4 linked regions of the Homo sapiens genome follow. The protein of the gene in region 2 interacts with the protein of the main gene of each other region in a biochemical or structural test. Each region holds a gene or a part of one and is shown on either strand. Other genes may lie near its edges.

Region 1 (8,693 bases), on a different chromosome or scaffold from region 2:
TAGTCCCAACTACTCTGGAGGCTGAGGTAGGAGAATGGCATGAACCCGGGAGGCGGAGCTTGCAGTGAGCCAAGATCGCACCACTGCACTCCAGCCTAGGCGACAGAGCGAGACTCCGACTCAAAAAAAAAAAAAGAAGTAGAAGGTCTAAGAAGTACTTGCTTGGTGGGGCTGAATTTAAATGTATGATCTTGCTCTGTTTCCATGTAAATTCTAGTGACAGGAGCTCCTGGTGGCAAGCCACATTCTTCCCACTTGCAAGCAGCAGGCAGCACCACAGGAGAAACAGAGGACTAACCAGAGGCCCGCTCTGTTGCTTCCCCCTTAACCCTGCCCAGTGGGACCCCTGAGTTTACTCACTTTAACTTTCATTTTCTAGCCATTAGGACTTTCAGGTTCCCAGAAAAATTAATGACATGTAGATGTCAGCAAACTCTCAGGCCCTGAAGAGTACTGACTTGGGACTCCTAACTGTTTTGGTCCTCAGAGGCAGAGGTGAAAGGGGTCAAGAGAGAAGACAGGAGGTCGGGTAGACGCTGGGGAAGACAAAAAAACAGAGGAGCGCTAGTGATGAGGAGGGCTAAAGAGTTAAGAGTCTGCCCTTGTGCCGTGGCGCACTCAGTCTGCATGTTCATTCATTTAACGAACAAACCAGGCCGAAGAAGGGCCCACTGTTAGATCAGGTCACATCTGACCCCAAATCCAAGCCCCAGCTCTACTACTTTCTAAATGTATGATCGATCTTAGGCAAACTACTTAAGTTCCTTCTGCATCCCTTCTAAAGCAGGGACACTTGCCTTATCTTACTCAAAAAAAAAAAAGTAATAATAAAAATTAAAAACAAAGTGGGGAAACAAGCCCCACTATTTCCCAAGGCACCTATGAGGAATATGTATGAAAATAATTTTGCAACCTTAAAATGATTTTTAAAAATTAGTGTTACTGTCCCTCTACAGTTTAACAGCCCTCTAATTGTGAGAGGCAAGAGGGCAGGGGAGGAACAGCATCAGAAAGGAGGGGTTCTGTCGCACACGGAGCCATCGCTCTCTCTGCCAGGCAGAGTCAGACCTCTGCTTGGACTCTATAATTTCTAGGTGCCAGAAGTGGCTGCATAACGACCCAAAGCACTGGGGCCTGCCTCGTCTCTCTAAATGGCAGAGCTTCCCCTTCAAAGTCGTTTCAGGTTGGGTGCAGTGGCTCATGCCTGTAATCCTAGCACTTTGGGAGGCTGAGGTGGGTGGATCATCTGAGGTCAGGAGTTCGAGACCAGCCTGGCCAACATGGTGAGACCCCATCTCTACTAAAAATACAAAAATTAGCTGGGCGTGGTGGTGCATGGCTGTAATCTCAGCTACTCAGGAGGCTGAGGCAGGAGAATCCCTTGATCTCGGGAGGCAGAGGCTGCAGTGAGCCAAGATTGTGCCACTGCACTCCAGCCTGGGTGACAAAACAAGGCTCTGTCTCCAAAAAAAAAAAAAAAGTCGTTTCAGAGTCAGAGCTGGGAGAGCATGTCCAGACAAAGAAAAGAAGGTCTCCTCAGAAGGCTGGTCGGCCTCATCCCAGCACTCCTGAAGAGTGACAAACTGCGGTCTACTCCTGAAGACCTAAGTCTGGTCAGAGACCAATGGCCAGTGAGCAGTCAGGCCTCTCTGGCCCTGCCCCTCAGATGCCCAGGCTGACCAGATCAGAGAAACTAGGTTGGTTGAAGAAGTCTCCAATGAACCCCAAAGGAACCCACACAGATACAGAGCCTGTGATCCAGCTGTTGACCCTAATAAGGAAGGCTTCTTCTGTTGTCCGATAAAAAGTGAAATAAGTAGGCCGGGCACGGTGGTTCACACCTGTAATCTCAGCACTTTGGGAGGCTGAGGCGGGTGGATCACCTGAAGTCAGGAGTTCGAGACCAGCCCGGCCAACATGGCGAAACCCCATCTCTACTAAAAATACAAAAATTAGCCGGGTGTGGTGGCAGGCGCCTGTTAATCCCAGCTACTCAGGAGGCTGAGGCAAGAGAACTGCTTGAACCCAGGAGGCAGAGGTTGCAGTGAGCCAAGATCACGCCACTGCACTCCAGCCTGGGCGACAGAGCAAGACTCCATCTCAAAAACAAACAAACAAAAAAGTGAAGAAAGTACATCCTAGCTCTACTCAAAAGACTGTAGGAATCAGATACTAGCCACTGTCCAGAAGCCCTCAAACACACCTCAAGGCCAAAAAACACAGCACTTTTAAGTGGCAAGCGAGGGTGGTAAAGGTAGCCCAGAACACTGAAGAGCTACAGAAGTTCCCACAAACTGCACGGCTTTCCGTCCCTTCCTCCACTGTAGATAGCAAGGGTCAGTCATGGCCTCAGAGCCAGGCTACTCCTCGTTAAGGTACAGTCTCCGGCCTGTACTTTGGCCACATAACAAAGCTTGGTCTGAGACAGCAGCTATTTCACACACCTAAGCCCCAAGCAACAGACAAGGATCAGTCAATATGGTTGAGGGAACCTGCACTTTCTGGCATGTATCGGAATTCCTCAGGCTACAATTAAAAATCCAGAACTGCCATTGTGATCTTGACTTAGTCCTCAGTAATAAGTCCAAGCCCTGAAGGGATTGCAGACAGACCCTGGCGTGGTGTGGACCTGTTGCTCAGGGAGGTGTATGTGTGTGTGTTTGGGAGTGGGAAAGAGATGGCCCTTCAATTCCAGACTCCTCATTTTGGGTCTTATTCTCCTCCCTATAGACACACGGACAGCAGTCCCAAGAAAAGCAGTCCCTTTGAGGCGGCTGGGAAACCACTCACGTGCTCTGGGAGGACAGAGCTGAGCCTGGAGCAAGGGGGGAGGGGAAAGAAGATAATGAATGGGCACATCCACCCTGATCTGTGATCTGTAGCTAGGATTGAGCAAACCTCAGCTAAATTCTTCAGAGGCAGAAAGAGAGAGACACTCAAAGAACAACATAACTAGAGGACAGGGCTGGGAGACAGAAGGGGCAAAACAGGAAAACAGCTCATTTCTAGTAAGTGACTTTAAACTCAGCTGAGGTCCTGGTTGGTTCTCTGGCTTGAGGAAAGAGAGGAAGTAAGGAGTTGCGGGAGCGCACACACACTTCTGTGCGTGTGGAACGGTCTCACCCAGACGACCCCCCTCCCCCAAAGGAAATCGAGATATTCCTCTAGGGCTAGAGGGGACAACTGGTTTTGTGGGACAGGAGGAAGGAAAACGGCGACAGACAGCACTCCCTGTCACTTCTAAAAGAGAAGAGGGACAGGTTCCTTCACACCTAGCAAAGATCCTCCGATTCTGGAAGCAGGGGGAGCGGAACTTAGGGTACCTCTCTCCCACAACTAGAATGGACAGGCCAGAGGACAGTCATAGCGGTTTCCTTAAGGCTCACCAAAGGCAGGTAAGCTAAGGAAAGAAGCTCCCCACCTCCTATGGCCCGACGCCTGGGGAGCCCCTCAAGAGGGGGCTACGGGTCGGGGGAGGGGTCAGTATCCCCCTAAACTGGGGCTGGGCGGGAGGAAGGGCTGCCCTGGAGATGCTTCAACGCAGGCGAGACACCAGGTCCTGGGACAAGCATACTCACGGCGGCTCCGGGGCGGCGGCGTTACTTGGGGCCGGGGCTCGGACGGGATCCGCTTCTCTCCCCGCCGGCGGTGTCCCAGGCTCCGGCCTCCACTTCCGCCTTTCAGCCGCTCCGGATCCGGATCTCCACCTCCGCCCCGCCCCTCAATACTCCCAGGTGATTGACAGTGCGGAGACCAATGGGAGGCACTCTTGGCCGACCTACCCAGCGGCGCCGGTAGGAACGCGGGAGTGGCGGTAGGGAGCGCGCGAGGGATCGCGGGACTTGTAGTTCGCAGCGCTGGGAGGAGTCAGTGGCTGCCTGGGACTTGGGCTTAGGGTGGAGCCGGCTGACTGCGAGGCGGAGCCCGGCCGGAACTTTTTTTTTTTTTTTGAGACGGAGTCTTACTCTGTCGCCCAGGCTGGAGTGCAGTGGTGCGATCTCACTGCAACCTCTGCCTCCCGGGTTCAAGCGATTCTCCTGCCTCAGCCTCCCGAGGAGCTGGATTATAGGCACGCACCACCACGCCCGACTAATTTTTGTATTTTTTAGTAGAGACGGGGGTTTCGCCATGTTGGCCAGGCTGGTCTCGAACTCCTGACCTCAGGTGATCCGCCCTCTTCGGCCTCTCAAAGTGCTGAGATTACAGGCCTGAGCCACCGCGCCCAGCCTACGGCCGGGAACTTTTTAAGGCTAACCCTGCCATCCGCGTCACCGCCGGTTCCGGACGCCCCGAGGGAAGGCGGGTGGTGGAGCGTTGGAAGAAGGCAGAGGATTGTGTGTGCAGAATTGGGAAAGAAAAAACGTGGTGCGAATGAATATGCACGCGAGGCCTCAGTCCTGTGAACTCGCTGATCTGGAGAAGCCCTTGTCTGCACTGTCCGCCCGATTGCCAGGGGCGTCTGTGATTGGGAAGGTGAGGAAAGCGCTGCAGGAAGAGTTCTCTGCAGGATGCTGGGTGAGATCAAAGGGAGAGCTTCTGCCACCACCTCCTACTTGGTGTGTGCGGGGGCCGGCACAAAGACCATCTCTGCCTCTGCCTTCCCCTGCTCCTAGCCAGGGTCAGCTCTTCTCTCTGACGCGGAATACAGAGCTGGACAACCTCTGCCTCGGCCCTCTCCATCCGTAAATAAAGACTAGAACCACCCCCACTCTGCACTCTCCCCCTCTATGGATCAGGAATATTTGTTTTTTCTGCTCCTCTCAATATGGACTGGGCCCGCTCCTGATTCCTCCCACCCTTACCTCTCAACACAAACCAGTACCTCCTCTTCTTTTGCATCTCATCCTCAAGGGACACTACTGAAAACCTGTGTGGAATCAAAGCTCACCGGAGACAGCTGTGGCCATTGTGCCTATAACGCCAACACCAGGCATATCCTGGAGCCTCAGCTGGAGAATTTACCTGTCTTGGACAACCTGCCACAAAACTGTGCCCACATCTAGTTCCATCTGGTCATCAGGGCGTCTCTCTTTCTTACACCCATAACACACAATCCCCACTTCCGCGCCAGTGTTCATGAGAAGTGAAAAGGAAGAGGGAAGAGAGGGCTTGTTGGGAGGACAGAGGGGATGGGGCAGAGTGGGATTCCTAGCAGGTTCTGGCTGGTGACAAGCTCTTCCCCCAGCCCCCTTGCCATACCCAGTTCTGGAACAGTTCCTTATACAGGAGGGATGGGTAGTCCCCTAGGCCCACCTTTCCAAGGCTGGAGGTGGGCCAAAGCCAGGACTCTGTCCTTCCCACATACTGTGTGCATACATGGCTGTGACTGGGGTGCAGGGGAGAGAAGGGGGTATAATAGGCCCATAGTGACTAATTAAGTTTCTTCCTCAACCCTGGGGCCCCTGGTGGTGTGAATGTGGTGCCAAGTAGATTGGCTGGTGCCTCTGCCCTTCCTAGAGATAGCAACTGGGCCCTGGGGTACAACGAAGGTGAGGGTGGGGAGTGATTGCTGTGTTGGCTCCTCCAAAGCCCTGGGGCTCTCAGAGTAACCCCCAGAAACACCCAGAGCCAATAACTACAAAAATAAAGAGTTTATTTCCTATCCAAAAGTGAGCCCAGGGTGTTGGGTGGTAGAGGAGAGCTGGAGACCTGGGCGAGTTTTGGAGCAGTCCAGGCCCTGAGTGAGACCATGTTGTAATGGGGGAGAACAGGCTTGGCAGCGGTCTGGGGTCAGGGAAAGGATAGGGAGTGCTGTTGGGATTTTTGAGTTGCTAGCAGCAGAAGAGACCACCTTGAGAGACAGCCTGCAGAGAGACAGAAACAGAGATGTTGACAGACCCACGCCTAGGAGTAGAAGCAGACATTACTGGGCCCAAAAAGCACCTGTTGGGCACAGGGACCTGGGAACACACTGTTAGGTAAGGCAGAGGTTGCAAACTCAACCCCTGGGCTCCACCCCGGACATTCCAAATTGGATGAGGCCCAGGAATCTGCTTTTTATTTTTTTATTTTTTTGAGCCTCCGCGCCTGGCAGAATCTGCGTTTTAATAGGATCTCAGGTAGTTCTGATGGACACTCAAGTTTTGAGAACTCAAATACCCACAGAGACCAAACAAAAATTTCAAACAAGGGAAGCTAGCTGGGTGTCGGGAGATGATCAAGAAACGTGGTGACTGCGAAGTAGAGTGCAGAGCAGATCCCATCTAAAGAGGACAGTGGCCACCCAGCCCAGCTGATTGCCAGTTATTGCCAGATGGAATGTTGGCCCACGGTAGCCTGATGTCCTGAGGTTTTTTTTGTTTTGTTTTGTTTGAGCAGGGTCTCACTCTGTCACCCAGGCTGGAGTGCAGTGGTGTGATCACTGCTCACTGCAGCCTCAACCTCCTGGGCTCAAGAGATCCTCCCACCTCAGCTTCCAGAGTAGCTGGGACCACAGGCACACACCACTACACCTGGCTAATTTTTTAATTTGTATAGAGATGGGTGGGGGGGGTGTCTTGCTATGTTGCCCAGGCTGGTCTTGAACTCCTGGATTCAAGTCATCCTTCCACCTCAGCTTCTGGAGTAGCTGGAACCACAGGCACTCACCACTACACCTGGCTAATTTTTATTTATTTATTTATTTATTTTTGAGGTGGAGTTTCACTCTTATTGCCCAGACTTGAGAGCAATGGCACGATCTCGGCTCACTGCACCCTCCACCTCCCAGGTTCAAGCGATTCTCCTGCCTCAGCCTCCCGCGAAGCTGGGATTACAGGCATGCACCACCATCCCAGCTAATGTTTGTATTTTTAGTAGAGATGGGGTTTCTCCATGTTGGTCAGGCTGGTCTCGAACTCCAGACCTCAGGTAATCCACCTGCCTCGGCCTCCCAAAGTGCTGGGATTACAGGCGTGAGCCACCATGCCCAGCCTACACCTGGCTAATTTGAAAAATATTTTGAAAAATATTTTTCAAAATAATCCCAGCACTTTGGGAGGCCGAGGCAGGTGGATCATGAGGTCAGGAGATCGAGACCATCCTGGCTAACATGGTGAAACCCCGTCTCTACTAAAGATACAAAAAAATTAGCTGGGCGTGGTGGCAGGCGCCGGTAGTCCCAGCTACTCGGGAGGCTGAGGCAGGAGAATGGCGTGAACCCGGGAGGCGGAGTTTGCAGTGAGCCGAGATTGCACCACTGCACTCCAGCCTGGGCGACAGAGTGAGACTCCGTCTCAAAAAAAAAAAAATATTTTTATAGGCTGGGTGCGGTGGCTGACACTTGTAATCCCAGCACTTTGGGAGGACGAGGCAGGCGGATCAGGAGGTCAGGAGATTGAGACCATCCTGGCTAACATGGTGAAACCCTGTCTCCACTAAAAATACAAAAAATTAGCCGGGTGTGGTGGCGGGCGCCTGTAGTCCCAGCTACTTGGGAGCCTGAGGCAGGAGAATGGCATGAACCCAGGAGGCGGAGCTTGTAGTGAGCTGAGATTGCACCACTGCATTCCAGCCTGGGTGACAGAGTGAGACTCCGTCTATAAAAAAATATATATATATATATTTTTTTTATAGAGATAGGGTCTCGCTATGTTGCTCAGGTGGATCTCAAACTCATGGACTCAAGCGATCCTCCCACCTCGGCCTCCCAAAGGGCTGGGATTATAGGCATGAACCACTGTGCCCAGTGCTACATTTTGTAGAGAAATTGGAATATCTGTATTCCTATATAACCTGTCTCTTTTTTTTATTTTGAGACAGAGTCTCACTGTCGCCCAGGCTGGAGTGCAGTGGTGCGATCTTGGCTCACTGCAACCTCCGCCTCCCGGATTCAAGCGATTCTCCTGCCTCAGCCTCCCGAGTAGCTGCGATTACAGGCATGTGCCACCATGCCCGGCTAATTTTGTATTTTTAGTAGAGATGAGGTTTCTGCATGTTGGTCAGGCTGGTCTCGAACTCCTGACCTCAGGTGATCCGCCTGCCTTGGCCTCCCAAAGTGCTAGGATTACAGGCGTGAGCCACCGCACCTGGCCCTGTCTCATTTTTAATATTGGAACTAACTCATATTTTGAAAATAATGCTGCGCGAGCCGAAGAGTACATATCTGGAGCCATCCGTTTGTTTCCTGTGTGGGCTGTGGGATGAGGTGAGCCTCTCCAGCCTGGGCTCATGGTGGGCGGCCTAAGAAATCATGGGTTGCTCAAATTCCAAGCAACATCTCAAACCTACCCCTCTCTAGGTAACATTGCTCTTAAGGTCTTCAGCAGAGACCCAGGGGCTGAGACAGAAGACCTCACAATATCACTAAGCTATCTTCAGGCAAAATCCTACAACCTGTCTCTCTTGCTATAGACGCTAAGATCCTGTCTGGTCTTCCCTTCATGTCCTAGGCTGGAGCTGGGTCCCTTGCCCATCCCCTCTGCTCCCCCATCTCTACCTGCCTCCAGGTCCTGGGGAGAAAGTAGGATCTCATCTGCCCAGCCCAATGGGCACTGCGGTTCATCTCATGCCTGCTGGGTTCCACAGCCCTCAGGTGGCTCCCCTCACAGAGGGGGAGGTTGGGGAAGGCTTGGAAAAGGGAATAGCGTCAGAGGTAACCACGCTTCATTAAAAAGTCCAGAAATCCAGAGCCAACCAGGCCAGCTGGTGGCTGCTGACCCCAAGGCAGGAAGCCAAGGGGCCCAGGTCCTCCCTGAGTGGTGAGCGGCAGCGCC
Region 2 (7,730 bases):
TGAGCCGAGATCGTGCCACTGCACTCCAGCCTGGGCAACAGAGCAAGAGACTCCATCTCAAAAAATAATAATTAAAAAAAAAAATTCTCATATGCCACTAAGCCTATTGGCCACAGTTGTCGCAAAGAATAGCTCTATAGTAACTATGATAAAAACAAAATCACTTTTGACAAAATACATTTAGTATCTGTCTGATGACATTAAATTACACTGCACAGGCCAGGTGCTCACGCCTATAATCCCAGCACTTTTGGAGGCCAACGCGGGCAGGTTACTTGAGGTCAGGAGCTCGAGACCAGCCTGGGCAACATGGTGAAGCCTGTCTCTACTAAAAATACAAAAATTAGCCAGGCGTGGTGGCAGGCACCTGTAATCCCAGCTACTTGGGAGGCTGAGGCAGGAGAATCGCTTGAACTTAGGAGGTGGAGGTTGCAGTGAGCCGAGATTGCGCCACTGCACTCCAGCTTGGCTGACAGAGCGAGACTCTGTTTAAAATAATAATAATAATACACTGTAGAATAGTTACCTCATTTAGAGATCTGGGGCATATTTTACTACTACCTTGTTTGTACAATCCACTAGGATATGTTTCTGTTCAAATTCAGACATCATACAGAAGTCACACTGAAGTTCCTCTGTCACCAAGGTAAACCACTATTATCTCCCACCCTCCAACCAAAGTCATGTTTTCATGTTCTATGCATATTTTACTAAGAACCTAGCATTACATTCAAGCATTTGACCATATCCAAAGTTACTTTTGAAAAAATGTTAGTGTTATATATAGACGTCTCAGCTTATCTCCACAATGAATAGCAAAATATTTTTATGCAAAACAGGAGTCAGAGAGTATGACAATAAGGATGATATATGATATAACCAATGATAAAATAATAACTAGCATGAGCATTTACTTTATTATAGTCAGTGTACTGAGTACTTTAAAGATATTAACCCATTTATTTCTCACAATAACTCTATCACATAGATTCATATAGACTCTATCATATAGAAACTAGAGCACAGAGATTAAGTATTTGGTCTAAAAGATGGCGAAATGGCATAGCTAATAAATGGCATAGCCAGGATATAAATTTGAACAATCTTGATTCAGAACTTGGGCATGAAGCAATTATAATTTTGCTACTTACATGGCTGGCATCTACAACACAAGTCTGCTTTCAATCAACAACTAGAATACAATCACATCAAATACTTGTCAGTACTATGTCTTGCTCCTTTATCAAATCAGATTTTCTAGAAAGTTGCATACCTAGACTCTAGCAGCTAGCAGGTATGGCTTCAGAGAGCAACAACCATATATTATACCCATGTGTTTACTCATTTGCTTGTCTGTTTTTGCTGGAAACAATAGAAGCATTAACCACAGAAAAATATTTTGGTTGTTCTACAACCATTATCAAGTATACATTAGTATGTGTATAAATGTCCATGAAATAAAGAGCCATAAAGAGTCCATGAAATAAAGGTCATTTCTATAGAAAGCCTTTTAAGATTTTTTTTTCAACCATAAAAATGGTCCTTAACCCTGTAGTTAGCTGACTCAATTTTCTACCTTTATTAATAATATTTCTTTATTTGGGTCTTTGATTATAAACTAGCTTAAGTCTTTTTAATAGTAGGCAAAATACAAATAACAATTTTAAACTATATACATGATTTGTTACATTTCAGAGAAATGAACCTATGACCTAAATATCAGTATGAAAATGCTTATTTTTCTTAAAACTATAAAAAAAAATTATCTGTGGAAATGCCCCCAAGAACAAACATGCTTTATATATTTATTTGAAAATATAAAGACCTTACTATACTTTACAGATTTTATGTTACAAAAAAAAAATCTTACCTCCTTCTCTTTTTCAAGTGACTTTTTCAGTTCCTTCTGTTCCTTAAGTGTGTTTTCCATCTGCACTTGAAGTTGATGCTTTAATTCTTTGCAAGTTTTTTCCTTAAAAAAAATGAAAACTATATTACATAAAAAATATTTGTAATAACCTTAAGAAGTTTAGTTTATAACCTTAGTAAGATACACACGAAGAAATAAACTAAAATTATGATGAGCTAAGATGAGACAGGATCATCCATTTCAATGATAAAACTAGGAAAATATTACAGAAGTAATGGAGGAGGGACAACAAAACACTAAGGGTTTTGATCATCAACCAAGTCACAATGGCATATTTTAAACATTAAAATGATATCTTAGAACACTTTAGAAATCACATTTTATGTCACACAATTCATTATAATTAACTTGCCACACTACTTTTATAGCAATGGGCTTCAAGAAAATGGAAGCAAGAAAACTTAGGAAACAATAAATTAAGAAATGATCACAATAGGAAAAGTGTACAGATAGAAAATGTTTTCTCTAAACAGAAAAGAACATAACAACACACATGAGAAAGACTAATATTCAACTGAAAATATTCTTGGCCTTTAGAAAATGGCGTGCACACAGGTGCATACACACACATTATTATCTTGGGCTTCTTCTCAGGTTAAGCAATCCCAATTAATTTCCTCATAAGAACTACTTTAAACTATTTAAATGTGGAAAGAAAAGCAAACTGTGAATTAAGCAGAAAAATCAGTACATTTTAAATAAAATAATCACTTCTACCTAAGAAAGTAAATGTAAACTACTAACCAAGTCTAATATAGCGGCTTTTCCTTTCTGATTCTCCTTTTCAAATTCACTTTTAGAGTTTTTCAAAGAATCAGAAACTTTTGATAGTTTGTCCTTTACTGTAGAAAGCTCTGTCATTAAAGCTTCTTTCTCCATTTTCACTTTTTGTAGTTCTGTTACTGTTGTTTGAATTCTGTTATTCAATTCCTCATGCTGAATCTTTGTTTCTTGACTTAAAGTTTCAAAATCTTGTTTCAGGATTTTTTTTTCTTCCTCTTGCTTGGTAAGCTTTTGCTTGATACTTTCAAGGGCTTCAGATTTTTTCTGTAGATCCAATCTTGTACTGGATACTCTAAATATTTAAAAAACAATCTTTTTAAATAACACATAATTTACCACTTCTAATTTACCATTCAAAATTAATCACAAACAATTACTGAGTTCTGAAACTTTTTTGTATAGTTCACAAGTAAAAATAATTTAATTTCATAAAATCGCACCACTGAAAAATACTTTAGAACATCTCATTTGATCATTTAACAGATGTAGATTATTTTTCCCAAGTCAAATAAGTTAGTAGTGAAGACAAAACTATCTAAGCTTCCTGACTTAATCCATTTTTGTCCGCCACAACTAATCCCGAGGAAAAAAACTATGTATCACAGACCCTCTACTCTATAACAGCCAGAAACGTTTTTCCATAAAGAATCTATTCATTATGTTAGTTCTCCAACACAGAGAGAACTTTGTCTCTTTCCTTGAAAACATGAAACACATTATGTGTGACAGTTCTTAGGCTTCAAAATATTTATGGTTAACCCAGAAAAAAATCAAAGAAAGAAAATTAAAAAAATATTTTATTTACAATATAGAGGGAAGACAAATGATTTACTTTAACCCTAGAAGCTAGCAGATTATACAAAGGATTTGTTATCATTTGTTCCTTAATATAGTTCTCTTATACATGAATGAAAAAAGCAACAAGAATGAAGAAATAAAGTTATAGCTTTAGAAAGCTATAGACTTTTATTGTTTTCATAAAAGGAACTATGCAAATTATACAGCAAAACCCTCAATACACTATAAATAACAGCCATTTTAAAAGTCAAAACCAGATGCTAAGTAACAGTATTTCTAGAATGCACACTAGTTCCAATGTAATCAGAATAAATTTGTAACCAATAAAAATAAGTCAATATGTTAAAGGGAGGTTGTTAAAAGATGTACTAATAAAGTATTTGAAATTGTGTATTAATACAATATCAAAACTGTATTTATACCTCGAAATCTAATTTTTTAGTTCTAGAAACACACTTTTACCTCCTAAAAAATAGCTGGAAAAGATGTTAAAGCTTAATAGGTTCACAAGATATTATTCCTCCTTGATTTTTAAAGGTCCAAATGGAAAAGTCATTATACTAATATTATTTTACATTTTAATATAGTTAAAATCCCTGTTAAGCAACCTTAGAATTAAGACTTGATATATTTATTTACTATGCTGCTTAACTTTTTCAAAATTAATTACAAAATCATAAGACTATGTGAATCAAAGAAAGCAAAACAGAAATAGAGGCTTACATAGTCACTGTGACACTTCTTGTTTTTTTTTAAGTAACTAAGGGAAGAAATAAACAAGTCCACAATCATAGTTGGAAACTATAATATCTCTTTTTAGAAACTGATAGAACAACCAGAGGAACAAATTGGCAAGAATATAGACAATAAGAACAGCACTGTAATTGTTATTTATAGCCACTCCACCCAATAACACAGAGTACATATATGTGCACATGGAAAATTAATTATGATAAGCCATATGCTGGGCCTTAAATAAGACTTACTTTCAAAAGTTTGAATTTTACCAAGAATGTTCTCTGACCACAATAAAATTAAATTAGAAATTAGGGCCAGGCACGGTGGCTCACGCCTGTAATCCCAGCACTGTGGGAGGCCAAGGTGGGCGGATCACAAGGTCAGGAGATCGAGACCAACCTGGCTAACACAGTGAAACCCCCATCTCTACTAAAAACACAAAAATTAGCCAGGCATGATGGCAGGCACCTGTAATCCCAGCTACTCGTGAGGCTGAAGCAGGAGAATCGCTTGAACCCAGGTGGCAGAGGTTGCAGTGAGCCGAGATCACGCCACTGCATTCCAGCCTGGGCGACAGAGTGAGACTCTGTCTCAAAAAAAAAAAAAAAAAAAAAAATCAGTAACAATAATATACCTAGGAAAGCCTCAATATTTGGAAAGTAAACATACTTATAACCTACACATTAAAGAAGGAATCACAAAGGAAATCAGAAAATATATTAAACTGCAGAGGAATGAAAATACATTGTAAGATGGGAGGGAAACATTGGGTGTATAAATGTAAGGGGGCCCTCAAAAAGGGGAGCCCTGTATCCTGTTATTTGGGCTAAGCCCTGGGCTCATGGGTGGGGTTTAGTCAAAGTCTCTATATGTTTATCTGATATAAGAGCAGAAGGGACCCCAGCCCTCCTTGCCTAGGTAGTACTCCAGAAATGTGAGAAGACCTCAGAGGAGAAATGTATGTACAAAGTACATAGGCAAGAAAGATCTTAAAGGTTTTCCTACCCCAATAGGATGTGGGAGCCCTGTAAGTGAATTCTGAACCATGAGATTAGAACATAGAATGAAAATGGGTCCACTTCCATTGGGCCCATTGGAAACAGAAAGAACCATTGGGCCTGCAGAGTTTTTGAGGAACAGAACAAAAGCCATCTCGGAGATGATCTTCATGGACTGATGCCTGCATTCTAGAGATAATGATGAACCATTTGGTTGGTAATGTAATGGATCAGATATGCTCCTCAAATACCTAGGCACTGGAAACTACCGTGAGGAGGAATGCCACCTGAGGCACAAGATGCAATTCTATAACCTCCGATTCAAAGCATCAGGACCCAATTTACTAGATATGAAAATGAGAATATTTTCACCATCATATCCCCAAACAAGGATGAAAACCATGAAGGTGTGAAACAACTTAATCATCAACTCTGATGGGTTTTATTTCACCTTTCTGAAGAGGACTTTTCTCAGGTTCTTAGTCTCTACCTTTACTACTGGAACAGTCAAGAGCCCTCATCCCCTTGACACAAGTCAAGTCCATCAACTCAGTCAGAGCAGGTGATTTGATGTTTAAAGACAAAATGTACTCAAATGTAACCAGTTATATGAAGACATTCAAATGAATTGGGTGGAACTGATTTTTATCCATCAAAATAATGGTGAGTGATGTGTTCATTGAAGATCTCATCATGGCAGGACCCAAATTCAGCATCAACATCAAGGATAAGCTGGGCAAGAGACTAATTCTACCTTGGGAGTGAACGAATGATGCTGCAGCTAAGCACTTCTATGGCTATATATGTTCAGAAGCACATGCCCATTCTGCCACCAGAGACATTTGAAATTTCATATACTAATAAATCGTATAGGTCCCAATAACTTCTAAACCAATCCACCCTTATACTCAGAGCTGCCATGAATCCATTGAGCACTTTAGTGCAAATTAGAAAAAAGATACCCTCTTTCAAGATAATTTATTCCATCTGTGGCAAAACTGTCATAATACACTGATTTTATTAGAATAAGGCTACATACTACCATCTGCAGAAATCTTACATCTAGCATTGACAAGTGAAAAGTGGGTAACTGAAAAAAAGAAACAGATACTACAAAATGTAGACAGACACAGTGACGCTTTCACATTTAAAAGCTATTAAAAAAAAGCAAAGTAATAAGGTCTAAAGATGGAAACAATAAAGAGGAGAAATAAATAAGATAGAAAACTGACAAAATAAATCAAAAGCTTTTTACAATAGTCTGATAAAACTGATAAATCTCTAATTAAATTGATTTTTAAAAAGACAAATTAGCATGATTAAGAATAAAGGAGGAACACTACTACAGATCCTAACAGACCTTAAAAGTGTAATATTATGAACAACTGCCAATAAACTTGAAGTTTAGAGGAAATGAACCCATTTCTGAAAGACACAATGTACCAAAACTGACTCAAGAAAAAAAAATCAGGAAATTAGAATAGCTCTATGTCTATTAAATGAATTGAACCCCAAATGAAACAATCCAGAAAGAGAACTCTAAGCCTAGCCAGTTCACTAGTGAATTCCATCAAACTTTTAAGAAACAAATAATATCCATCTCATACAAACTATTTCAGAAAGGAGGAGGAAATACTTCTCAATTCCTTTTTAAGGCCAGTATAACTCTGATATCAAAACCTGACAATGATATTAAAAGAATACTACAGACCAATACCCCTCATAAATATATGAAACATTTTTAACAAAGTATTATCAAATCAAAAACAGCAATATACAAAAAGGTAATACAGCATGGTCAAGTTAATTTATCCCAGGAAAGCAAGGTTGGTTTAACAGTAAATCAATCAATGTAACTGACCATATTAACAGAATAAAACAGAAAATCCATATGATCACATCAACAGATACAGGAAAAAAGGTGATAAAATTCAATCCAAGCACGGTAATTTTTCTTTTTTAATAATTTTTTTTTTTTTGAGACGGAGTCTCGCTCTGTCGCCCAGGTTGGAGTGCAGTGGCACTGGAGTGCAGTGGCATGATCTCAGCTCACTGAAACTTCTGCCTCCCAGGTTCAAGCAATTCTCATGCCTCAGCCTCCCGAGTAGCTGAGATTACAGGCGTGTGCCACCATCCCCTGCTGATTTTTGTATTTTTAGTGGAGACGAGGTTTCACCCTGTTGGCCAGGCTGGTCTCGAACTCCTGACTTCAGATGATCTGCCTGCCTCAGCCTCCCAAATTTCTAGGATTACAGGCATGAGCCACAAGGCCGATAATTTTTTTTTTATATATAACTAGGTATCAAAGGTAATGTCTTCAATCTGATAAAGGGAATCTCAGAAAAACCTACAGCTAACCTCAAACTTAATGATGAAACATTTAATATTTCCTGCCTAAGATTAGAAATAATGCAAAGATATTTGCCAATACTGTTTACATTCACAATGTTACTGGATGTCCCAGCCAGCAAGAAAAAAGATAT
Region 3 (5,481 bases), on a different chromosome or scaffold from region 2:
TGAGACAACGGAGGAGACGGGATGGGAGTGAGTATACCTCATCAAAGTAACTGACTTGGCAAATACACTTATGAAATCTTTCTTGCATATTAAAGAAGTCACCCTCATCCTTTATATAGTTTTTGTTGTCTCCATTCCCCTTCCTCTTTGAAAAACGAAACACACAGAAAAATATAAAGGCTAATAAAACACACACCTTGAAATGACCAAATGTTATCCTTTTGTCGTACTGGCTTCAGATTTTTCTATCATGAAGTAAATACAAATGACAGATAGTTACATCTCCTTCGTTCTCCCTGATCCTGTTCACTTCTCTCCCTCCCCTTAGGTAAGGACCATCATGAAGTTCCTGTTTTACTTTCTAATTCTTTTAGCACACAAACACATTCATAAACAATGTCTGAATTATTGTTCTGTGTGAGTTGACATGCATTGGTACTTATTCAGCTTGCTGTATTCACTCAGCCAGGGCCACAGGTTGGTTGCCCAGGCGATGCACTGCACAGTTCCTGAGGGTTGCATTCATACAGGACACTATGATGGCTCCCTTGGGGATGTGCAGGATGGCAGCCTGCACTCCAAACTCCGTTTTTGAGATCAATGTTGATGCATGACAGTGAGTTCATTTTCATTACCTGATAGCTTTCATCATGTGGCTGGGCCGCATTTCATTTTTCCATTTCCTTAGTGGAAGGCAACATTTTGCTACTGCAAACAGTGTTTCAGGGAACATCCTTATGCATGTCTGCATATGTGCAGGTGCACACATTTCCCTGGGGAATCATCATTCTCTGTTTGAGTTAACTGTGATTTTTAAAAAATGATTCTACTGAACAGTGTAATAAGAAAAAGACAAACGGTAAAACTGAAAATATTTATTAGTATGAATCAGTGTGTGTTAAACCAAAAATAACAGATACAATTAGGCATTGTTGATGGAAATGCTTTACTACAGAATAGAATACATGGCGGAAAGGTCCTAGCTGACTGCAGCGGTGTCTTGTATGTGCAAGAACTGGGTCCAGCCCAGATGGAAGCTCTTTACAAAAACACGAGAAAAAGGAGCAGTTTGCACAACAGGGCAGCACCACTGGACTACAGGGTCTGGTTTCAACAATGATGTTAAAACAGTAAGCTAGATACCCAGTCGGTCTGAATACAGTTCAGAGCTCTTTAATTTATAAGCTAGCTCACCATTCAACTTGCCATGAGCATTGCAGAACAGTGAGAACTGGAGCCCACACAAAAAAGCTCAGTTTCAGCCACCACATGCCAAAGTCCTTGACTGTAGAGGAAATATTTCAGTCATCCAAACCTTTCTCAGAAAATGAACTCAGTTTCCATTGGGGCACAGCCCTTATTGTTAGCTAAAAGTTAGTTTCGGGCCTTCAACCTTTTAGTCTGCAAGGTAACGTCATATTCAACTGCCTAATGTGCCGTTTTTAACCATAAAATGGCAAGTCAATTATGTGGCAATGTAAAATGCTTGCACAACTCCACTGTCATTCTCAGAGATTTCCATTGGGAAGCCATGCCTACTTTATATTAACACATGGCTAGGGGCCAAACTCAGCCAGTGAAATGGATTACATATCGGAGTAACACATATACAATCATATTTACACAGATACACACTCATGCCACACACGAAAGAAAAAAAAAAGGGAGAAGGAACAAATTTTGGAAAACGATGCCAAGGATGCTACACTACATGAAACTACATGACTTTTTTTAGCAACAGTAATTTCCAGGCCTTTACATAATATTACATGGTTATGGTTCAATTATTAGACAGCCAGGAAGTAATCCCGAGCCAAAACAAAGGAAGGTTGTAAAGCCTCATTGTAGACAAGGCCTGAGCATCCACAGAGAAGATACAATGTTTATGTGAATCCTGGTGTGCCCAAGTGTGATCTACTCTCTTCACTGACTACTCTGAGTGCTGATGAGAATATATATATTATCCTCTGACTGGCTTGAATAGCTAAGACAATACAGAAAGGTAACAGAGTGGTTTCACACCCTCATGTGCTTCTGAAATAAAACCATGGGCTCATTAGTGGGTAGCTCACTATCTGTGGCAAAGACTAGACATTTTATGCAAAACACAACCACTGCAAACCCAGCCCAAAGATGCAAAACTCTCAGCTAGGATACTTACCCCTCAGCTAAAAAACCTGAACAGCTATCTAGAGATAAACCCAGGTTCTCAGGGAAAACTGGATGAGGAAAGGTTACAAAATAAGCCTGCAACTCAGCTGGAAAGAGGTCACTTCAATTTTCAACTCATTTTTTTTTTTTTTTTTTTACCTTTGGCAAGGGGTATGATCATTTCTTGGCCTGCAAGCACAATCATGCCAACCATTAATGTGGACAATGTGGAAAAAACCCTAAAAATCCCTGCAAAGCCCCTGTCAAGACATCCAAATGCCGCTTGCTAACAGTTTTTGAGGTACCTATTTGGGAGAGCCAAGTGGAACTCTTGAAGCAAAATAAGTGTTTCCCAGCCTTCACATCCTAACACTGTCAATGAACTCTCTTAAGTTGAGTGAAGTGGAAGCGTGCTGAGTTACTGAAGTGCCAGGTCTTTAATCCAATCAGCTCACAACCTCTTTCCTGACTTTTGCGATATAGATTGTCAATAAAGGTTAGCCGTCCCTTGAATGCTCATGGCAAAGAAGGTACCAGCTGGCCCTGGCTAGCACACAGCATGATTAACCATTTCTGAGCACCAATCCTAATGTCCTTTAAGAATCACCCCCTAATATAAGCCCTGGCAGGAAATCAGCTGCTTCTTGATCCCAACTTTTTATGAAAGTTAGAATGGTAATAGAATTTGAATTTTCAGTAGGAATCAGTTCTCTTCCTTTCCATGCTTTTTCTTCCTTGACTTCCTTTGGATTCAAACATCTTTAATTGAGCAGACAGGGAATCTGAAAAGGAAGGTTTTCATCGGAGCCCATTCTCAGTTCCTTGGCATTCTAGGGTCAGACCTCTGGTTAGCCCTAAAGCCCTTCTCCTCAAGCTAGAAACATAAAAATACTTTTTCTGATTTTGTAGTTTTTTGGGGTCTAGAATTTTAAAGTGCTGACACTTCCTCTGGCTGGCTTTCCTGTAACCTATTATTAATTGTTATTATTAGAAGTTTGCCCAATGATTTAGATTCAAACATTAAATTTAATTCTAGTTAATTCTCTTCCCCTAGATATGACACCAAGAGATATTCTCTTAGTAAAATAATACTATGTGCGTTAAACTTCTCTAAGAGAGGACGAATGTATTCCTGCGGAGGAGATGCATGTCAGGTGGTCTCTTGAATAATGTGTATGTCCTGCATCTCTCACCACTTACATAGTGATTACTTAAATCACTCTTTCAAACTAGGCCACCCAATCCCAAAATTATATGCAGTAATTTAGTTTGATTTGGTTTGTTTGGGTATATATGACCATAACTTAGAAAAATTGTTCACCAATTAAAAGTGGTGTAGACAACAGTTTCTAATACACTTTTCCTGGCTTCTGTAATAACTCAAGTCTCAGTCTGAGTGACGGTCCATTGACACTTCTCTGATTTCCTCCAAAAAGTAATAAATAAAGGCTTACTTCCAAAGCTAGCTAAAAACTAACCTCCTGAACTAAATTTGCCTTTCAGTGAAGGTTGGTTAGGTAACAAAGGCAATGACACTGAAGTAGTTACTGGAATTTGGATAGGTAGCACAGGAAATCCAAGTGGAATGCCACTTTAGAATCCCATACACATAATAAGGCAGTAAGACTTTTGTACACATCCAACAATTTTTAAAGGTTTTTTTTTTTTTTTAGCAAAAATGCAACTACATCCCCTCCATGTGCATTTCATACACTAAAGGCCATTTTGTGGTGGTGTGGTGGGTTTTCCCAGGGTTTTCTAAAATCCTTTTCAGGTACATTTCCTGCCCCGCCCCCTGCAGGTCTTCCAGGATGCAAAGCCAGTGTGCTCACTCTTCTCAAAGTGAGGTGCCAGGCCACCGAGCGTAGGGTCCTTCAGCAGTGCACAGGATGTGGGCTCTGGCTTCTTCAAGTACCGTGGACCACGGCCCTTGGGTCAACAGCACCGGCGGCTGGCTTGCATGGTTGGCTTCTCAACTTTGATTGTTCCATTGTTTCCATTTTCATGGGGGTCCAAGGGTGGGATCTGGCGGCCTGCAACAAAAAGGAGGCCAAGGGTGAGTTCCCTTTCCTACAGCCAACACTGCACACACAGATTTTCACCCTGCTTCAACACTCCTGCTTTGGGCTGTGCACAAAATAAAGGTGTTCCTGGAGGGGCTCCTTTCTCCTTCCTTCCTTTCCTTCCTCCCTTCCTTCTTCCTATCCTTTCCTCCCTAGTTCTGCTGCATGAAGCCCAATTCATGGGCTTAGGAAGTTCAGGTAAGGAACAGTCCAGCAGTTTCCTGGTGGTGTGGAATTCCTGGGCTAGGAAGATCCACTCCTGGGGGCAGCTCCCATCCAGCCTCCGCTCATCAGCGCGCTCTTCCCTCTCCCTGCCTTCCCAGAGACCCATCCTGGTTTAATGAGCGGCTTTCATGGTACCGTGACTTCAACAGTAACAGTGAGTACTCATCCATCTTTTCTGCTTCTCAAAATAGAAATAGATTTGAATTGTAATCTTCCTAGCAGTGTCATTTATTAACACTTAGCTCATCATCCCTCATCCTGCCAATGCATTTAGATCATTAACTGGAAAGCCCTACAGAGACACTTTTCATAGGAAACAGTATTTTAATGTCATCCACAAGTAATCTTATTTTTACTTAACTTAATTTTAAAAATTATCAGAAAGTCTCTATAAATAAACACAAAATCAAAATTAAACAGGCAATGGAAGGGGCCAGGGAGATGACAGCTAAAGGGTATGGGTTTCTTTATGAGGTGATTTTTCTAAAATTGACTGTGCTGATGGCTGCACAGATCTGTGAATATACCAACACCACCGAATTGTACATTTGAAATGGGTGAAATGTATGGTATGTGAATTTTATCTCAATAAAGTTGTTTTCTGAAAAAAGGCAATGGAATCTGGAAATAACCTTAGTAGCTCCCAGTTTTCAAAGATTTTCACAAACACCATCCTCACCTCGCCCTGTGAATTTGATGTAATGGTCGTTATTATCACCATTTCACTGTGACTCGAGAACTTGAGCACTTTGCTGAAGGTCCCATCAATAACAGGCAGTAGTACAGCTGGTGCTTTGATTATAATCTACACCTTGACTTCCTGATGGGTCGCAAGGCCTGTGCTCTTCCCACTGAACCACATTAGGTCTCTTTGCTACTTTTCTATGCCCCTTGAAAAAGGCATGAAACACTAGCTCTAAAATGAGGATTTTGTTTTATTCTTGAGACAGGGTCTCACTCTGTCACCCAGGCTGAAGTGCAGTGGCTTGATCATGGCTTACTGCAACCTCGAATTCCGGGGCTAAAGGGATCCTCCCACCTC
Region 4 (7,730 bases), about 37 Mb from region 2:
GCGACAGAGCAACAGCGAGACTCAGTCTAAAAAAAAAAAAAAAAAATTAGCCGGGTGTGGTTGGTGGCCGGCATTTGTAATCCTACTCGGGAGGCTGAGGCAGAACTGCTTAAACCCGGGAGGCGGAGGTTGCAGTGAGCCGAGATCGTGCCACCACACTCCAGCCTGGGTAACAGAGCAAGACTCCACCTGGGGTGGGTAGGGGGGAGATCGGGGGCAGGGAAGAAGCCACAATATGAAAGTGGTACAGAGAAAGAAAAAGAGAAAAAACAGGCCTGGCAGAGCGGCCCATGCCTGTAATCCCAGGGGTTTGGGAGATAAAAGGGGAAGCCTTGCTTGAGGTGAGGAGTTTGAGACCAGCCTAGGCAACATAGCGAGACTGAGTCTCTAGAAAACATTTAAAAAAATTAGCTGGGCATGGTGGTATGTGCCTGTAATCCCAGCTACTCCAGAGGCTGTGGTGGGAGAATCACTGGAGCCCAGGAGTTGAAGGTTGTAGTGAGCTGATTACACCACTGCACTCCAGCCTGGGCGACAGAACAAGACGCTATCTCTGGAAAAAAAAAAAAAAAAAAAAGGAGACATAACTAAAGGGTAAAGAGGAAGTTAGCAAAAGAATGAGAGGTGAGAACTCAAGGTCCCAAAGTAGACTAGATTAATACAGAGGAACATGACAATTACTTTGATTCTACTGGGTATTCTGTAGTCCCCTTGGTCAGTCAGTCTTAAAAATTCAGATATACATGTACCATTTTATGATTAAGTTTTCAATGGCCTATGACGAAAGGATCAAAATAAAGATGATACAGCAAATTTTTCATAAAGCTAAATTTATTCAATTTAAATGAGTATCTTTAATTATAACATTTTAAAATTTATTTTCCATTTTTAGAGAGAGTCTCACTCTGGTGTTTGAGAGGTCAGGAGTTTGAGACCAGCCTGGCCAACATATAGTGAAACCCCGTCTCTACTAAAAAATACAAAAATTAGCTGGGTGTAGCGCCACATGCCTGTAGTCCCAGCTACTTGGGAAGCTGAGGCAGGAGAATCGCTTGAACCCAGAGGGCGGAGGTTGCAGTGAGCTGAGATTATGCCACTGTACTCCAGCCTGGGCAACAGAGCAAGACTCCGTCTCTCAAAATAAAAAATAAATAAAAGAGAAGACAGGTGACACCATAATAAAAAAAAAAGGACAGATGATAAGCTGATCAAGTTTCCTTCAGGTGACATATATATGCTATACTCTCAAGAAACAATAGAAAAAGTTACTGGTTTTTTCAACTTACTCCCTTACATTTTTATGTATTTCAAAGCATGTGATCCAAGGGGTAGAATATTAAGCCTCAATGTTACTACTCTACAATAAAGGAAAATGTGGGAGTTAGAATGGACTGAATTCTCATGGCTAAACATATCACTTGAGCTCTGGGGGAGTGTAAAGACAGGAAACAATTGCAGACACGCTTGAGTTGCAAAGTCTCTGTCACTAACTCTCAGAGATGGGAAGTCAAGCCAGAGCCCAGATGTGGTCAGCAAGCTTTCTTGCTACTAAGCAACCTTGGATTCTCAGAGATCAGTAACTACTGACTTAGAAAAGACTACCTCGTACCCTAATATGTAGCCTTAAGAGTATGTTCTGGCTGCACATCATGGTTCACGCCTGTAATACCAGCATTTTGGGAGGCCAAGGCAGGAGGATCACTTGAGCCCAGGAGTTTGAGACCAGCCTGGGCAACATAGTGAGATCCCACCTCTGAAAAAGAAAGAATATGTCCTGCCTTCCTCCCTGTTCACAGCAATTGTTGAGCCACCTCTAAGCTTTGATCTTTAATCTTATCATGTTTATAAGGGTATCATTTAAAAAATATAATAGCTAGACTCTCAAAAATTCTGTGGTACAGAAATGAAATAATACATATAAGATTCAATTATTTATTTTCTATTCTCATTTTTTCCCACAAAAATACTAATTTTTTTTTTTTTTTTTGGTAAACCAGTCAAGTGGTATGATGATTATTACCTTCAAACCCGAGACAAAAAAAAGGGAGATGGGGCAGGTTTCTCTTCCTTTCAACCTTTTTAGCTCAGAAGAGAAGAAATCAGATTTAACTTCCCTTAGAAGTGCAGCTCTGCCGGGTGCAGTGACTCATGCCTGAAATCCCAGCACTTTGGGAGGCTGAGGTGGGCGGATCACCTAAGGTCAGGAATTCAACACCAGTCTGGCGAACATGGTGAAACCCCGTCTCTATTAAAAACACAAAAATTAGCCAGGTGTGGTGGCTGACACCTGTAATCTCAGCTACTTGGGAGGCTGAAGCAGGAGAATTGCTTGAACCTGGGAGGCAGAGGCTGCAGTGGGTCGAGACTTTGCCACTGCACTCCAGCCTGGGTGACAGAGCAAGACTCCATCAAAAAAAAAAAAAAAGAAGTACGGCTCTACAAGAATGACTTATAAAATGACCCATTAACTAGGGAGGATTGAGGCCTGACCATGGGTTAGCCCACTAGATGCAGGAGACCCATGGAGGATGTTCTTTAATGTGGGCAACTCTCCCAAGCAGTGCAGCAAAGTAGGCATAACAGTAAAAGTGTCTTAGCAGTCCCAGCTAGAGTAAGACTCCATTCCTCAAGCCCCCTTCCACTTGTTAGCTTTGAGTCCCTAAACCAAATACATATGAAGTCTCCAGAAGTCTATCACCTATCAACAGAGACAGAGTTCTCGGTATATATAGCCACTGGAGTCCAACCCAGTACCAGTTGTCAGCCTTAAGGTCAGTCAGGCAGATCAGAGCCAGTCTAGAGGTCATTTAGTCCAGTCTCTATATTTTATAGGTGAGGAAACCGAGACACATACAATTAGTCAATTTGGGCTAGGCGTGGTGGCTTACACCTGTAATCCTAGCACTTTGGGAGGGCGAGATGGGCAGATCACCTGAGGTCAGGAGTTTGAGACCAGCCTGGCCAACGTGGTGAAAACCTGTCTCTACTAAAAATACAAAAATTAGCTGGGTGTGGTGGTGCGTGCCTGTAATCCCAGCTACTCAGGAGGCTGAGGCACGAGAATTGCTTGAACCTGGGAGGCAGAGGTAGCAGTGAGCCGAGATCACACGACTGCACTCCAGCCTGGACAACAGAGCGATTCCGTCTCAAAAATAAATAAATAGCCCCATCCCTTCCCCGGCTCCCCCGGTGTCCGCCATGGCCAAAGCCTACGACCACCTCTTCAAGTTGCTGCTGATCGGGGACTCGGGGGTGGGCAAGACTTGTCTGATCATTCGCTTTGCAGAGGACAACTTCAACAACACTTACATCTCCACCATCGGAATTGATTTCAAGATCCGCACTGTGGATATAGAGGGGAAGAAGATCAAACTACAAGTCTGGGACACAGCTGGCCAAGAGCGGTTCAAGACAATAACTACTGCCTACTACCGTGGAGCCATGGGCATTATCCTAGCATACGACATCACGGATGAGAAATCTTTCGAGAATATTCAGAACTGGATGAAAAGCATCATGGAGAATGCCTCAGCTGGGGTGGAGCACCTCTTGCTAGGGAACAAATGTGACATGGAGGCCAAGAGGAAGGTGCAGAAGGAGCAGGCCGATAAGTTGGCTCGAGAGCATGGAATCCGATTTTTCGAAACTAGTGCTAAATCCAGTATGAATGTGGATGAGGCTTTTAGTTCCCTGGCCCGGGACATCTTGCTCAAGTCAGGAGGCCGGAGATCAGGAAACGGCAACAAGCCTCCCAGTACTGACCTGAAAACTTGTGACATAAAGAACACCAACAAGTGCTCCCTGAGCTGAGGACCCTTTCTTGCCTCCCCACCCCGGAAGCTGAACCTGAGGGAGACAACAGCAGAGGGAGTGAGCAGGGGAGAAATAGCAGAGGGGCTTGGAGGGACACATAGGTAGATGGTAAAGAGAATGAGGAGAAAAAGGAGAAAAGGGAAAAGCAGAAAGGAAAAGAAGGAAAAGAGAGGAAGGGAGAAGGGAGAGGAATGAATTGAGGAAGTGAACGAAGGCAAGGAGGTAGGAAGAGAGGGAGGAGGAAAGGAAGGAGAGATGCCTCAGGCTTCAGACCTTACCTGGGTTTTCAGGGCAAACATAAATGTAAATACACTGATTTATTCTGTTACTAGATCAGGTTTTAGGGTCCTGCAAAGGGCTAGCTCGGCACTACACTAGGGAATTTGCTCCTGTTCTGTCACTTGTCATGGTCTTTCTTGGTATTAAAGGCCACCATTTGCACAAAAAATAAATAAATAAATAAAAAATAAAATAAAATTAGTCAACTTGTCAAGTGTTACCATACAGCCAACTGCTAAGCAGTAAATGTAGGACTCCTAGTCAGGTACTCCTGCCTCTTATACCACTATACTTCTTAAGGAAGCAGGAAATGCTGAACTCTAAAGAGAACACCAGGACAGGATCGAGAGCTTAGACTGGATAGAGTTCCTGCCTCTATTCAGTTTAGGTAAGTACTTGCTTTGGGACTAAAAACAAATTAAGAAGACCCAGGCCTTCCTTGGCAACTGGGATGCAGTCCCATATCTTTCTGACAGAAGAATTAATTCATCACTACTCTTTTCTAGAAGGTCTATGACCAAACCCTGCCAGGACAGTTGAAATAGAAGCAATTCAATGAGAGGCAATAGGAAAACAAGCGGTAACTTTTGCAGAATTTGGTGGGCCCTGCGATTAATGTGAGAGTTTTACTAAGTAGGGAAGATAGAGCAGAAACCAGTAAATACCTTCATCTCCCTCTCCAACTCTGTTTAAACCCAAGTCACCAAAATCTTGAAATGAGAGTTCTACCACTTGGCTCAGCTCTTCATTTTGTTGATCCAGTGTTACCTAATGAGTCATTGGATTAAATGAGATTCCTTCCACATCTCGCACCCTTTCCCTTATATTTCTCCAAGAGGCAAAAAGCATACTTACCTCTTATCAGTATGGTAGTACAAACTCCCTATTATTGACCTAGGTAAGATTGGAATGCCCGTCCCTACTTGTCTGCCTAGCAAAATTCTATATATCTCATAAGACCAAGCTCAAATGTTACTTCAGTGAAATTACATAATCACCCTCTCCCCCACAGAATTAATCATTCTCTAGAGGCCCGTAGGGTCCCACAGTATTAAGACTGTATTTCTGGCCAGGTGTGGTGGCGCACACCTGTAATCCCAGCACTTTGAGAGGCCAAGGCAGATGGATCACTGGAGGTTAGGAGTTCGAGACCAGCCTGGCCAATATGGTGAAACCCCGTCTCTACTAAAAATACAAAAATTAGCTGGGCATGTTGGCACAGGCTTGTAATCCCAGTTACCCAGGAGGCTGAGACATGAGAATTGCTTGAGCCCGGGAGGCGGAGGTTGCAGTGAGCACAGATTGCACCACTGTACTCCAGCCTGGACAGCAAAGCAAGAATCCGTCTCAAAAAAAAAAAAAAAAGACTGTATTTCTATAATAGTATGTATCACATTATCACAGTATATAAATTGTGTCTGTCTGCTCTGCTAAACTATGAACTTCTTTAAAAGTGGGAGTTTATCTTAAAATCTTCAGAGCACAGCATGCTGCCTGATCCCTAGTAGGTGCTCATTAAATGCTCCCTAAATTAAGGCTAAGTAATTCTACTTCTCTCCCCCAATCAACTCCTCCCTTTCTGTACCATCTGGACAGATCTTACTCAATTCCATTTGGGTTCTTTTTTTTTTTTCCTGAGACGGAGTCTTGCTCAGTCGCCCAGGCTGGAGTGCAGTGACGCGATCTCGGCTCACTGCAAGCTCTGCCTCCCAGGTTCACGCCATTCTCCTGCTTCAGCCTCCCGAGAAGCTGGGGGACTACAGGCGCCCACCACCACGCCCAGCTAATTTTTTGTATTTTGTTTAGTAGAGACGGGGTTTCACCGTGTTAGCCAGGATGGTCTCAATCTCCTGACCTCGTGATCCACCCGCCTCAGCCTCCCAAAGTGCTGGGATTACAGGCGCATGCCACCGCACACGGCCCCATTTGGGAATATTTTTAATAGGCCTCAGAATCAATTCTCTCCCTGGCTCCTCTGTGATCTCCCTTGGATGGAGGGCCCCCTTGGGATCTTGCCCACAAGGTACTATTGCAACTCGCATGGGCTAACTGCTTTTCCTGTCACCCGTTACTATGCCTCAGATGGCCTAATCACACCCAATATGTGGCCCTCCCACCCAAACACTGAGGCAACTATAGCTAAAAACAAAGTTCGCTGAATTTTCAGTTGATGTTGAACGGTCAAAAGCTTTGGGCCACTATCTATTAATTCCTGACTTGAGAAACACAAGTTTAAAAAAAGGAGCCATAACACCACAGAACCAGGAGACACTCTGAAAAGGTACCCACTGTCCCTGAACAGAAGCTACAACCTTGCCCAGAAATGTACACATACTTTGTTCACCTGGGTAGCTCCTTATTCAGTTCAGTTACTGTTGAGTCAATGGCTAAATCTTTCCCAAAACGGAAGTGGGAGTATACCATGTAGGGTTTTATGGTATCCTTCCTCCAAGAGGGCTGCTGCATTTCCTTATTATAAGTTCATTGTCTCACACTTTGGTTACCTTCCAATCTGAAATGCTTTAGGATTAGGGAGCAAACTATACGCTTGCTTCTTCTACCCTATGCCTCCTTCTCAGAAGTAAAATTCATACCAATAAGCAATATTTGCTCCCAGGTAAAGTAAGAGTTAGAAGATATGAGGTATGTTATGCAGTAGGGATTGTCCAGGAAAAAAATTTTAAAAGATATGAGGTATGACTTGAAGGGCAATGGGAAAGCTCTCTTCTCCAAATATATTTTTGCAACTCCAGGTCTATGTATGAAATTCCTTATTGATAATTCTACTCCTAAACTCTCTTAGGATGCAAAAAACTGTTGGAAAAATTAGATAGGATTAAAACACACACACACACACGCACACACGGCCAGGCGCGGTGGCTCACTCCTGTAATCCCAGTGCTTTGGGAGGCTGAGGCACGTGGATCACCTGAGGTCAGGAGTTAGAGTCCAGCCTGGCCAACATGGTCAAATCCCGTCTCTACTAATAATACAAAAATTAGCTGGTCGTGGTGGTGCACGCCTGTAATCCCAGCTACTCTGGAGGCTGAGGCAGGAGAATCGCGTGAACCTAGGAGGCAGACGTTGCAGTGAGCCGAGATCATGCCACTGCACTCCAGCCTGGGTGACAAAAGTGAAACTCCGTCTAAAAACACACACACATACTCCTACACAACTGTCTCTAGGACTGGCTTGCAGGTGAGAAAAGTTCCTTGGGGGAAAAAACCGAGGTTTCCAATGGGCGCTGTACAAAGGCTGGGTACAACAGAGGGCTTTTAAAGCTAGTAAGGACAAATTCAATTAATAAGGTGGTAGTATGAAATGCCCCAGCTGTACTCTGACTCTGAGATTTAGAGGAAAACCGATTTCAAATCCAGATAAGCTTGGAGCTTCTCAGATCCCTACAGAAAGACACACACTGTACTCCAGCCTAAGTGACAAAGCAAGACCCTGTCTCTAAAAATAGAAGAAAAGAAAAGAAAGACAAATACAGGGGCCTCTTAGGAGAACCATCATCATCATGGATAAGAAAGGGATAGTCAAGTAATGTGAACATGCAGAGACCATGAACATCCAGAGACCATGAATTTGAGATAAGGGTCTGAAATTCCTTTCTTTAGCAGAGATGCCAACAATTA

Evidence for each region.
Region 1: the proteins of EEA1 (region 2) and RAB5C form a complex in vitro, tested with the Homo sapiens proteins (2 studies listed by BioGRID and IntAct, with this or other methods).
Region 3: the proteins of EEA1 (region 2) and RAB31 form a complex in vitro, tested with the Homo sapiens proteins (2 studies listed by BioGRID).
Region 4: the proteins of EEA1 (region 2) and RAB5B form a complex in vitro, tested with the Homo sapiens proteins (one study listed by BioGRID).

Annotation. Positions count from the first base shown.
Region 1 is NC_000017.11:42,151,315-42,160,007, forward strand, and holds the start of RAB5C (ras-related protein Rab-5C), read right to left. Parts: upstream 3,676-8,693; 5' UTR 3,579-3,675; intron 3,396-3,578; exon of another isoform or gene 3,086-3,395; intron 1-3,085. UniProt on the Homo sapiens protein: The small GTPases Rab are key regulators of intracellular membrane trafficking, from the formation of transport vesicles to their fusion with membranes.
Region 2 is NC_000012.12:92,799,730-92,807,459, forward strand, and holds part of EEA1 (early endosome antigen 1), read right to left. Parts: intron 3,006-7,730; coding exon 2,675-3,005; intron 1,973-2,674; coding exon 1,871-1,972; intron 1-1,870. UniProt on the Homo sapiens protein: Binds phospholipid vesicles containing phosphatidylinositol 3-phosphate and participates in endosomal trafficking.
Region 3 is NC_000018.10:9,857,931-9,863,411, reverse strand, and holds the end of RAB31 (ras-related protein Rab-31), read right to left. Parts: intron 4,185-5,481; coding exon 4,087-4,184; 3' UTR 861-4,086; downstream 1-860. UniProt on the Homo sapiens protein: The small GTPases Rab are key regulators of intracellular membrane trafficking, from the formation of transport vesicles to their fusion with membranes.
Region 4 is NC_000012.12:55,976,502-55,984,231, reverse strand, and holds part of RAB5B (ras-related protein Rab-5B), read right to left. Parts: intron 4,861-7,730; coding exon of another isoform or gene 4,758-4,860; intron 1-4,757. UniProt on the Homo sapiens protein: The small GTPases Rab are key regulators of intracellular membrane trafficking, from the formation of transport vesicles to their fusion with membranes.